Linked DNA regions of Homo sapiens: region 2 is linked to region 1. A link means that fine-mapping ties the variant in region 1 to the expression of a gene that starts in the linked region. Tissue or cell type: whole blood. Region 1 holds a variant in brackets; the other region holds the start of a gene. All regions are shown on one strand. Distances are between the middles of the regions.

Region 1 (2,665 bases):
TTTAAAGAAAAATGCCCCTGGACTCAGAAATGCTCTAATTCATAGTGCGTTGTAATTGACCAATAACACATCTGTGTTAGTTTCCTATTGTTGCTGAAACATACTGCCACAAACTTGGTGGCTTAAAACAACACAAATGTGAGGTGCGGTGGCTCATGCCAGTAATCCCAGTACTTTGGGAGGCTGAGGAGGGCAGATCACTTGAAGTCAGTAGCTCAAGACCAGCCTGGCCAACATGATGAAACCCCATCTCTACCAAAAATACAAAAATTAGCCAGGTGTGGTGGCATGCACCTGTAGTCAGTCCCAGCTCCTCGGGAGGCTGAGGCACAAGAATCACTTGAACCCGGGAGCAGAGGTTGCAGTGAGCCGAGATTGCACCACTGCATTCCAGCCTGGGCGACAAGGCGAGACTCCCTCAAAAACAAAACAAAACAAAACAAAACAACACAAAACAAAAAATGCAAATGTATTGCATTTATGGAGGTCAGGAGTCTGACATGAGTCTCACTGGGCTAAAGTCAAGGTAATGGCAGTCTTGCTGTCCATTCTGGAGGCCGTAGGGGAGAATCCATTTTCTCACTTTTTCCAGGTTCTAAAGGCTGCCCACGTTCTTTGGTTTGTGGCCCCTTCCATCTTCAAAGTCAGCAATGGCTGCTGGAGTTTCATATCACATCACTCTGACCTTGACTGTTCTGCCTCCCTCCTTCACTTATAAGGACCCTTGTGATTACATTGGTCCTAACTAGATAAACCAGGATATTCTTGCCATTACATGATCAGCTGACTAGCAATGCTAATTCTATCTTCGGCCTTAATTTCTTCTTGCCATTAACATCTCAAACATATTCACAGGTTTTGGGGACTATGGCATGGACATCTTTGGGGGCCATTATTCTGCTTACCACAAGTTCCTTCCTTAGAACTTTCTTTGCAGGGATTCGGGGAGAAGAGAGAGGTAGCTAGAAAATACCGGGGCATCATAATAAGAGGAACTAGGGAAGCTCAAAGCATCAGAGCAATCATCCCAACTTCCTGAACCCCAAGATGACTCCACAATTTGGAGACCTGTTGTCATTTTGTCCTTACCTCTCAGTTCACCCCAGGAGTATTTAAATTTCATCTGTTTGGTGGGGAGTGGATTCTCATTATATACAGATAATATGTGTTTCAGAAAACAAAGCAAAGGGCCTTTTCCCCAGGGCAGGTAGACAGTGCTCCTAAATTAGTGGTTTTCAAAGTACAAGTCACAATCCACTAATGACTCTAATGAGTCCTGAGATGAGTTTAGTGGGTGAGGGAGAGAGAAAGAGAGAGAGAGAGGAAGAAGAAGAAAGGAAGAAGAGGAGGAAAAGAAAGAAGAAAAGGAGGGAAAAAGGAAGGAAGGAGGGAAGGAAGGGAGAGAGGGAGGAAAAGAATAAAGAAAAAAGAAATAAAAGTATATGGAATAGAAAATATTGTGACACAGCCATCACATGTTTTGAGGCTAAATATTGTTGCAATTCTACCTACACCCGTGTGCATTGGCTTATGGTATAAGATGTATTTTTATAG[T/C]AAGACAGTCTGAGCCAGAGGGGCCCACAGGGCAACTGCAGATGTTTGCATGGAGGGGTTCCCCCCCTCAGAGGAGCTGCCCCTAATCTGTATTGAGAAAGATGAATCTGCTTATCTGTGTGGAAGCTTTCAAAAGGACTTGAGGGGACTGAAAAGGGGGAAAGGATGGGAATGTGGAGCAAGGAGATCAGATCAGAAGAGGAAGAGATGAGAGTTCAAAAGGAAAAAATTAAAGTGAAATGAAATTAAGAACATTAGTCATGTGAGACAAGAACAAAAATAGTAGACTCTGACAAGAAATCAGCCAGGAAGATAGGCCCAGACTCAAATGCTTTCTTGAGTGAAAGAACAAAGGGGAGAAAATCTAAACCCCAAACCAAAACAACCCTGCTTTCGTGTTCCTTCTTGCATCCACTGAGCCAAACCTCCAGCTGCCTCATGCCGCTGCAGGCACTTGTGGCAAAAGCACACATGAACCACGCTGGACATCAGAGGCTTGTGGGTGCCTAGGGGCCTTGTGACCTCCAGCTACCCTGAGCTGTGAAATCAGAGCTGAAGGAAGCAAATGTGACAAGACCTGGTCTGAGCGATGGGCGGGGAGGTGGACTGACAATGCTCAGCCCCCCTGGGAGGTTCATGTTTAATGCCTGCTGAACACCCCATGTCCTTGACCCAGACTCTCAACTCATCACGAACTCAGCTGCAACAACAATTGAGCACAGGGAATGAACAGGTGTCACGATCCTGTTATGAACAGGGAGAAACTGGGTCTCAGAGGAGTCCAGGAAATGGCCAGGATCAGTAAGAAAAAAAAGAAATAAAAGTACGTGGAATAGAAAATATCATGGCACAGCCATCACATGTTTTGAATCAGTAAGTGACAGGACTGTGACTCAAGATGCCCTCTGAACTCCATGCAGGGCTCTTTTCACCACAACAGGGACTTCCAAAGCATATGTTTGGAGGAGACTGACCCATGCTGATCACACAGAGAGACCGTACTTGCCATTTATGCCACAGGCTTCTATGCCCCCACCTCTCGCCAAGTCCCTACTCTAAGGTTTGGACGGTCACTCCGTAGAGGTGAGGTACGTAGGATACATTTGGTGGG
Region 2 (2,500 bases), 69 kb after region 1:
AGCCTCTCTAGTTAAGCGACCTGCGTTCCGACTTACCTCTGAGTGATGGGCCTACTGCAGAGCCCGCCTCCCACCACAGTGCTGGCCCAGAATTTTTTATACGAACTAGTTCGTAACTAAACGTTGGAAGCATCACCATATTGCCAGTGAGAAGTAAGATTTAAAAATAAAACGATGCTGTCCCTTTTCGCCCTTCCTTAGGACGTCTCCTCCTGCACTAAGGGTTCAGGTGAAGGGTGGAAACTGGCCAAGAAGAGGAAGAACGTGAAGGAGTAGGGGGCAAGGAGGAAAGGGCTCCCTTTACAGACTTTGGTGCCATTTTTACTTTCTGCTTGCTAATCTGAAACGTTGTGCGATTACAATGACGGCCCCTCTCCCCCTCGGGTACTAATTACCCCCGGGCCTTTTCCGGTGCACATCCCGGTGCTATATTCTGGTGCCTGTGTTGCCCCCACGCCCCCATTAAATTAGTAAAGGAAAACCACCCCTTTTCTGCCCCTAAAGTAATCTATAAACGAAGGAATACAGATGAGGATTTAAATCCCAATCCTAATTCCAAGGGAGGCTGGAAGCCCCCTCAGCCGCGCCCTGGCTTGGCTTTTTCATCTCGAGCGGTTGTGACGCCAGGGGCAGGTCTTCCACGTGTCTTCACAGAGGTGCCCGGAGGGAGGGCGTGAGGGATTACCCAAGGGAGGGGCGAGTATCGCAAAATAGGCCAAGTCGCTGCCCTCTACTCAACTCGCAGGGCGGGAGGATGGAGACAGAGGGATGCGGCGGGAGGGCGGGACAGCCCAGTCGCCGCCAAGGAGGCGAAGCGGGGTCGGGGTAGCTCACCCGCCCCCCGCAGTCCCCGCCCCCCGCAGTCCCCGCCCCGCGCGGCGCCGCGCACGCCTGAAGTCATTGCCCGAGGCCCCGCCCCCTCGCGGCCCCAGCCCCGGCTCTGGCTCTGCCGGCGGAGGGGGCGGAGAGAACCCGCAGCTGCAACTTCGCCTGGAGCCTTTGAGCCTGGGCTCAGCCGGGGATCTAGCAGCCGTCACCGCCGAGTCGCCGCTTCCCCGGCGCGGGCCTCAGCCCAGCCGGCTTGGCCATGGCAGGCGCCGGCAGTGCGGCGAATCTGGCCCCTGCGCTCCCCGCCCGTAGCTGAGCAGCCGTTAACCAGCCATCCCGCCTTTCCTCCTGCCCGTGTCGCCGAGGCCCACGCTCCGCGCAAGTTTCCGCCGCCGAAGAAGCAGGAGGACGGACGTGAGGAGTCGGGCGTCCCTGGCCCACCCGGCCCTCTCGCCCGCGATGTGGGGGCGCTTCCTGGCTCCGGAGGCCAGCGGCCGGGATAGCCCCGGCGGAGCCCGCAGCTTCCCTGCCGGTAAGGAACGGGACAGCGCCCCGGCTGGGGTGGGGGTCACGGCCGACCGCGGCGCCTCGGGACCTCGCCGCCGCTCCCCTCCCGCCTCAGGCCTGTCTTACCCCGGCCGCCTCCCCGACGCCGCCGCGTGCCCAGTGTCCTCCCCGCTGTCAGCACCCGGGCTGACATATGGCTTGCCGCGTCCCAGGCGCATCAGCCCCGCATCCCGTCGTCCCCGCCGCTCCTCCTTGGGCTGCAGCCCCAGCGCCCCCAACTTCCAGCTCGCTTGGGCCCCCGCGGGTTGGGCTTTATTGTCTGCCCGGTTTTTTCCTTTTACTCGTGGGGTGTGTGACCTGCGTGATAACGGGGCTTGCCCGTTTGCTCGCGGGGACCCGGGCGGGAAGGTCGCTGCGACAGTGCTGCGGCGGCGGCCCGGGCGCGTCTCGGAGGGGCCGCAGTTCCGCGCCCTCCCGACTTCTGGTAGGCGCAGGCTGGGGTTGGCTGTGCCCACGCCCGCAGCCGCTACTTTTAGGGCGCGTTTTCGGGAGGGAGGATGCTGCCAGAGATGCGGCCGCTCTCAGCCACCCCCAAGGGAACTTCAGCCCCTCGGAGGAACCTGGTCGCCGCCCCGCAGCCCCTGCGGCGTAAGAGGAGGGCGCGTCCTGCAGTAGCCAATGGACCATTGAGCAACCGGGTTACGAATCCGTTTGGCTTTCCGTGGCCCCTTCAAGGAAAATTAGGGGTTTGCTGCATTCCGTATCTGAAGGGGTCTGTTTGTATCGGACAGCCATTTCATGCTTGCGTCGCTCAGAAGTTGTGTAGGAGCCACAAAATTAGGATAAATCCTCCCCTAACTTGGGATAAAAAATAAGTCTTGGGTTGCCTGTGATATGTTCTCTAAAGATGATGGTCTTTCCAGGCACTTTTAATCTTGAGTTTTGAGGCCTTTTGAGAAACTGAGTTATATGGACATTCTGCGCAGAAAAAACAATGCCATATATACATACGCAAAATTTTCCCTACAATTTTAGCTGTTTCTGGGACTCCTGTTAAGTAACCTTGCTCCACAAAGTGTTTGAGCTCGACTTGTGTAACTTAGAGATATTTTTGCATACATTTCCAAAGCTGTTATTTACAAAACAAAAAAGCAGAAGCAGCATT

What was found. PIP is the estimated chance that this variant, and not a neighbour inherited with it, causes the effect.
Region 2: it holds the start of CEP85L, and the variant in region 1 is fine-mapped to the expression of CEP85L in whole blood (TOPMed, PIP above 0.99).

Annotation. Positions count from the first base shown.
Region 1 is chr6:118,718,905-118,721,569 of GRCh38, reverse strand. No RefSeq gene overlaps it. Among named protein-coding and RNA genes, the nearest start is that of CEP85L, 69 kb to the right of the region's middle. RefSeq lists an enhancer at 1,527-1,576. The variant T/C (reference allele first, on the strand shown) is at 1,555.
Region 2 is chr6:118,650,057-118,652,556 of GRCh38, reverse strand. CEP85L (centrosomal protein 85L) reads left to right here and starts at 966. Exons shown (of 13, transcript NM_001042475.3): 1 at 966-1,360. The coding sequence starts at 1,288. RefSeq lists silencers at 613-1,072, 1,273-1,582.